2 linked regions of the Homo sapiens genome follow. The protein of the gene in region 1 purifies or fractionates together with the protein of each later gene. This does not show direct contact. Each region holds a gene or a part of one and is shown in the gene's direction. Other genes may lie near its edges.

Evidence for each region. The genes of interacting proteins can lie anywhere in the genome.
Region 2: the proteins of NSMAF (region 1) and XIRP2 purify together in Homo sapiens (affinity purification with mass spectrometry; one large-scale study listed by BioGRID and IntAct). This does not show direct contact.

What each region holds. Positions count from the first base shown.
Region 1 is NC_000008.11:58,597,235-58,600,891, reverse strand, and holds part of NSMAF (protein FAN), read left to right. Parts: intron 1-870; coding exon 871-922; intron 923-1,021; coding exon 1,022-1,142; coding exon of another isoform or gene 1,143-1,160; intron 1,161-1,395; exon of another isoform or gene 1,396-1,528; coding exon 1,529-1,660; intron 1,661-2,968; coding exon of another isoform or gene 2,969-2,989; coding exon 2,990-3,032; intron 3,033-3,341; coding exon 3,342-3,505; intron 3,506-3,657. UniProt on the Homo sapiens protein: Couples the p55 TNF-receptor (TNF-R55 / TNFR1) to neutral sphingomyelinase (N-SMASE). Specifically binds to the N-smase activation domain of TNF-R55. May regulate ceramide production by N-SMASE.
Region 2 is NC_000002.12:167,241,413-167,245,069, forward strand, and holds part of XIRP2 (xin actin-binding repeat-containing protein 2), read left to right. Parts: intron 1-364; coding exon 365-498; intron 499-1,156; coding exon 1,157-3,657.

The sequences.
Region 1 (3,657 bases):
TGTGAATTGAATACAGCTCCCTGTGTGTATTTAGATGGCTTTACTTTTTAAATTATAAAAGTAATATTTTCTTGCCAAAAAAATCAGCAACTATAAAAAAGGAAATAAGTTTACTTGGTATCCCACCACACTGAGATAATAATTGTTGTAAATTTTTTGGTATGTCCTTTTCATTTTTTTTGAACTCTACACATATCTAATAATAATTCCTTTTGCAATGAGCCATTCAGATAGTGGTGCTAATCTTTTTTTTTTTTTTTTTTTTTTTTTGAGACAGAGTCTTGCTCTGTCGCCCAGGCTGGAGTACAGTGAGCAGAATCTCAGCTCACTGCAACCTCCGCCTCGGGTTCAAGCGATTCTCCTGCTTCAGTCTCCTGAGTAGCTGGGACTACAGGCGCATGCCACCACGCCCAGCTAATTTTTGTATTTTTAGTAGAGATGAGGTTTCACCATGTTGGCCAGGATGGTCTTGATCTCCTGACTTCGTGATCCACCCGCCTTGGCCTCCCAAAGTACTGAGATTACAGGTGTGAGCCACCGCGCCCTACCAGTGGTGCTAATCTTTCAGTGTGGAGGCACCCTGCTCCATTTGGCCCTTGGATGAGGCAATGTGTATATGGTAGCTAATGGTGTGGACTCGGACTCTATGCCCACTCCCGCCATGTGACCCTGGAGAAGTTACATAAACTCTCTGGGCCCCAGTGTTCCCTTTTGTTAAAGTGGGACACTCAGAGAGATGGTTAGAACTATGTGGAAATGACAAACAGAAGTTAATACAGGTAAAGTGTAGAACAGCCCCCAAGTGCATAGGAAATGCTGCTATTGCTATTTCCTTAGCTGAAAATAGGTGAATTTTTTTTTCATATGTAGTATTGCAGAAACTTGGAAAAACTGTCTGGATGGTGCAACGGATTTTAAAGAGGTAAGCAGTTAATAAAGCTGATGAGTAACTGGACTTGGGGTTTCTAACTGCTTTAAAACATGTTTGTTGTTCTTTTTTATTTTTCCCCGAAACTTTCAGTTAATTCCAGAATTCTATGGTGATGATGTGAGCTTTCTAGTCAATAGCCTGAAGTTGGATTTGGGAAAGAGACAAGGAGGACAGATGGTTGACGACGTGGAGCTTCCCCCTTGGGCTTCCAGTGAGTCCCCCCTTGGAGGTGTTGTATTATAGACATGCTTTACCAAGTAGTGCAATTTCAGTAATTATTTTATTGCTTAGATTTTTAAAAATCACAATATAATTCTCTAAATAAGGATATATGAGCCCTATTCCATATCAGAAGTATTCTATGAGTCTGTGATGTAAAAACATTAATATATATTTGAGAGACCTTAATGTGAAAATGATTCTTGCCACTTTTTTCCCCAAAAAACTTACATTTCATATGATAGAAAAAGAAAACTGCATTAAGAAATATGGACCTCTTGCCTGTCCTAGAAGCTTTATATACATATAGATAGACAAGAGAAATGGGAGGAAAAAAATGAAGACTCCATGATTTTTCGATTGAGTCTAATCTAATAGGTCCCGAGGACTTTCTCCAGAAGAGCAAAGATGCATTGGAAAGCAATTATGTGTCTGAACACCTTCACGAGTGGATTGATCTAATATTTGGCTACAAACAAAAAGGGAGTGATGCAGTTGGGGCCCATAATGGTATGTAATATTCATTGAAATTTTATTTAGCATTGGGTGAATATTTAGCATTATTCATTTTCATTGGAAAATGAAAGCAAACAATACCAACAAAAAAATGAGGCCAAAGCAATTAGTCTTATTTCTTCAGTGGAAGCATGTTCTGTCAGACTCCAGCGTCCACTGGCTGCATGACCCTGGATCAGATATTTTTTTGGTTTTCTTTTTGAGATGGAGTCTTGCTCTGTCACCAGGCTGGAGTGCAGTGACACAATCTTGGCTTACTGCAACCTCCGACTCCCTGGTTCGAGTGATTCTACTGCCTCAGCCTCCCGAGTAGCTGGGATTACAGGCACCTGCCATCATGCCCAGCTAATTTTTTTGTATTTTTTTTGGTCGTGACGGTTTCACCATGTTGGCCAGGTTGGTCTCAAACTCCTGACCTCAGGTGATCTGCCCACCTCGGCCTCCCAAAGTGCTGGGATTACAGGTGTGAGCCACTGCGCCCAGCCCCTGGATTAGATATTGAGTAACTGACAAGGAGGGAGGACTTTTGCCCAAATAATACCAAATTCATCCTGGCCCCAAGAGGTCTTTTTATAAAGTCTTCTAATTTTAGCATATACTCTACATCCCACTGAATAATTTCAATTAAAACTCTATTACAGTGTGATAGAACAGTGGCCTCAATTCCTATGGAAGACCCAGAGTTTCTTTTCCTTTTCTTTTCTTTTTTTTTTCTTTTTTTTTTTTTTTTTTTTTGTTTGAGACAGAGTCTTGCTCTGTCACCCAGGCTGGAGTGCAGTGGTGCAGTCTTGGCTCACTGCAACCTCTGGCTCCTGGGTTCAAGCAATCCTCCTGCCTCAGCCTCCCAAGTAGCTGCCAGAGTTTTTTTTTTTAATTTAACAGAAAATAGCAGCAATATACCTTCTCTTCAGTTTCAATGCTTATCTTCTTCCACGTTTCTCATGTGTGTTTTCTTTTTTTAATAAATGAACTCACATATAATCCATATCGCCCATGTTCATAACAAGGAGCTGTAGCTGGAAATTCAGACCTAATTTTTTACATGGAAATTCCGTCTTATTAATTCTATAAGTCATGCTTCCTCTCAGGAGAAAACAATGCTGACTGAGATGACAGGTCCTCTACCTGACAAGTAGATTTTTGTTCATCTGAAGATAATATTCAAGTTGGTATTTACTGCAGTTGGATATTAGTCTGTTTTGCAAAGTGAATAGCAATTTCTTTGAACATGAGTTTTAAGTTGTTGCATTGTTTAGGTTCTAAACAGTGTATATTACATTGAAATAGCACATCTTTCAATAGTGTTTTGTATGTCTTTTTCAGTATTTCATCCCCTGACCTATGAAGGAGGTGTAGACTTGAACAGGTACTTATATGTCAATAAGGAGTTTCTACTTGAGTTATAAGATATGTCTTTATCTAAATTATTAATGTATTTATTTGAAGGTTGAGGTATGGAAATTTTAAAATGAATTCTATCTTGCTTTCACTGTTGTGTTACTGAGCATCAGAAAATATTCTGAAGGTCTATAATGAGGTTTAGACAATCCTGGTACATAGTTGCTGTCATTATTTGAGGGTTAGTCCCTCCTATTGATCAGTACTATTTGAAATGCGTGCTTTCAAGGAACTCGAACCTAGTGGTTCACTGCATTATTTGTGTTCTGTCCCAAAGCATCCAGGATCCTGATGAGAAGGTAGCCATGCTTACGCAAATCTTGGAATTTGGGCAGACACCAAAACAACTATTTGTGACACCACATCCTCGAAGGATCACCCCAAAGTTTAAAAGTTTGTCCCAGACCTCCAGTTATAATGCTTCTATGGCAGATTCCCCAGGTAAATTTTGTAAAGAGAATAAACGTGAGCACCTTTTGTTTCTCTTCTGTGATGAAAATGTTTCTGAAGAGGAGATAAGACGTATACTGTTGTGCTACTTAGAGATGATTGTGTTCTCCTGCCTTATTGCAGTTCTCCTGAAAACAGATACC
Region 2 (3,657 bases), on another chromosome or scaffold:
AATCCAGAGATAACCAACATTTTTCTTCCTGTATTGTCTTACTATAGTTCTTCCTATATTCCTAAATTACATAATGAAATAATGCCATATGCATGCTTGTACCTTGAATCTTTTTACTTAATGTACACTGTGAGAAGTTTCCCATAGCATTATAATTTTATCTTTTTTAATAATTTCTGTAGAGACAGGGTCTGGCTATGTTGCCCAGGCTGGTCTCACACCCTTGGGCTCAAGTAATCTTCGCACCTCAGTCTCCCAAAGTATTGGGATTACAGGAATGAGCCACCATGCCCAGCCATAATTTCTTCTTAAACATAATTTTTAGTAATTACATAGTAACCCTGGTGTGTTTTTCTGTTTGTAGTCATTGATACACCTGAGGATGAAGAGATTCCAAAGGTTTCGACTAAGTTGTTAAAAGAGCAGTTTGAAAAGTCTGCCCAGGAAAAGATCCTTTATTCTGACAAAGAGATGACAACCCCAGCCAAGCAGATTAAGGTAAAGTCATTTCTTTACACAGAAACATACTAAGTGTAAGACCAAGCTTAAATGTGTAACATTTTCAAATTATTGAATACTTGAGGTGGCTTTTCAACAAAAAAAAATTCTGAACTGGCATTTATTCAGTTCTGTAAGGAGAATATTGACCTGCATGCAAAAGGAGGTAGAGTAAAAACTTTTCTCACTAGCAGAAAATAAGGGATGAAAAAATTATATATGTTCTAAAGTCTAATAATTAACATTAAAGTAATTAAATCAATTTTAAATGCCAGATGCTTACTCTGTTCTGTTTTAAATTCCAAGGAAAATGAAACAACCCTCAAAAGTACTTTAAGACTTTTACTGTTTCCCTCTAGATTACTCTGCATACCACATTAAGGGAAAAAGAATCACGATTATGTGTAAATTTTAAAATATTGAGTCCTTGTTGCATTGAATAGCAAATATAACTTTACAAGTAAAAATGGATTATAGGAGAGATAGTGACAAATATTGACTATTATTCCTAAGTTGGTCTTTAAATGAGTATATCACATATTGTTCCCAATGGAGATATCATAGGAGGGTCCAGGTTACAGACCAATGAAGGGCAGTGCCTAGGAAGCCTCTGCCACTACACTCACCTTTATAAGATTTGATTTTCTCTCCCCTAAAGACTGAAAGTGAATATGAAGAGACTTTCAAGCCATCATCAGTTGTGAGTACCTCTTCCACTTCTTGCGTTTCAACCAGCCAGAGGAAGGAAACATCAACTACAAGATATAGTGATCACAGTGTCACTTCCTCAACTCTGGCACAAATTAATGCTACTTCTTCAGGAATGACAGAAGAATTTCCTCCTCCCCCACCTGACGTACTTCAAACTTCAGTAGATGTGACAGCATTTTCCCAGTCCCCTGAACTGCCCAGTCCTCCTAGAAGACTACCAGTCCCCAAAGATGTATATTCCAAGCAAAGAAATTTGTATGAATTAAACCGTTTATATAAACACATCCATCCTGAGTTAAGAAAAAACTTAGAAAAAGATTATATCAGTGAAGTTTCTGAGATTGTTTCTAGTCAAATGAACTCAGGGAGTTCAGTCTCAGCAGATGTGCAACAAGCCCGGTATGTTTTTGAAAACACAAATGACAGTTCTCAAAAAGATCTGAACTCAGAAAGAGAATACTTGGAATGGGATGAAATTCTGAAGGGAGAGGTGCAGTCCATTAGATGGATCTTTGAGAATCAACCATTGGATTCCATCAACAATGGCTCTCCTGATGAAGGTGATATTTCCAGGGGCATTGCTGATCAAGAAATCATTGCTGGTGGTGATGTGAAATATACCACATGGATGTTTGAAACCCAACCCATCGACACACTTGGGGCTTATTCTTCTGACACTGTAGAAAATGCAGAGAAAATTCCTGAGCTAGCCAGAGGAGATGTCTGCACAGCTCGGTGGATGTTTGAAACAAGGCCATTGGACTCAATGAATAAAATGCATCAAAGTCAAGAAGAATCAGCGGTAACTATCAGTAAGGACATAACTGGGGGGGATGTCAAGACTGTGAGATACATGTTTGAAACTCAACATCTAGATCAACTTGGACAGCTTCATTCAGTGGATGAGGTTCATTTACTGCAGCTTAGGTCTGAGCTCAAAGAAATTAAGGGAAATGTTAAAAGAAGTATAAAATGTTTCGAAACTCAACCATTATATGTTATTAGAGATGGTTCGGGCCAAATGCTGGAAATTAAAACTGTTCACAGAGAAGACGTTGAAAAGGGAGATGTAAGAACAGCACGGTGGATGTTTGAAACACAGCCGTTGGACACAATTAACAAAGATATCACAGAAATTAAAGTTGTCCGAGGAATATCCATGGAAGAAAATGTCAAAGGTGGGGTGAGTAAGGCAAAGTGGTTATTTGAAACCCAACCTTTGGAGAAAATCAAAGAGTCAGAAGAGGTCATCATTGAAAAGGAAAAAATAATAGGTACAGATGTCTCCAGAAAGTGTTGGATGTTTGAAACCCAGCCATTAGACATTCTAAAAGAAGTTCCTGATGCAGATTCTCTACAACGTGAGGAGATAATAGGTGGTGATGTACAAACTACTAAGCATCTATTTGAAACACTTCCAATTGAAGCATTAAAAGACAGTCCTGATATAGGAAAGCTTCAAAAAATCACTGCCTCTGAAGAAGAAAAAGGGGATGTTAGGCATCAAAAATGGATTTTTGAAACCCAACCTCTGGAAGACATTAGAAAAGATAAAAAGGAGTACACACGAACAGTGAAACTTGAAGAAGTTGACAGAGGAGATGTGAAGAATTACACACATATCTTTGAATCAAACAATTTAATTAAATTTGATGCATCACATAAAATAGAGGTGGAAGGAGTTACAAGAGGTGCTGTAGAGTTAAATAAATCTCTCTTCGAGACAACACCACTGTATGCCATTCAAGATCCCCTTGGAAAATATCATCAAGTAAAGACAGTCCAGCAAGAAGAAATCGTAAGAGGTGATGTAAGAAGCTGTAGGTGGCTTTTTGAAACAAGGCCCATTGACCAGTTTGATGAAAGCATTCATAAATTTCAAATAATTAGAGGAATATCTGCTCAAGAAATACAGACTGGAAATGTGAAATCTGCCAAATGGTTGTTTGAAACCCAACCTCTTGATTCAATTAAATATTTTAGTGATGTGGAAGAAACAGAAAGTAAAACTGAACAAACTAGAGATATTGTTAAAGGGGATGTCAAAACCTGTAAATGGCTTTTTGAGACCCAGCCAATGGAGTCTCTTTATGAAAAAGTTTCGTTAATGACCAGCAGTGAAGAAATTCATAAGGGAGATGTCAAAACTTGTACTTGGCTCTTTGAAACTCAGCCACTTGATACCATAAAAGATGACTCTGAAACAGCAGTCAAATTGCAAACTGTAAAACAGGAGGAGATCCAAGGTGGGGATGTTCGTACAGCATGTTTTCTTTTTGAGACAGAAAATTTGGACAGCATACAAGGAGAAGAAGTGAAGGAAATCAAGCCTGTTGAAATGGATATACAAGCTGGAGATGTTTCCAGCATGAGGTATAAATTTGAAAATCAGTCCTTAGATTCTATAAGTTCTAGTTCAGAGGAAGTTTTGAAAAAGATCAAAACCTT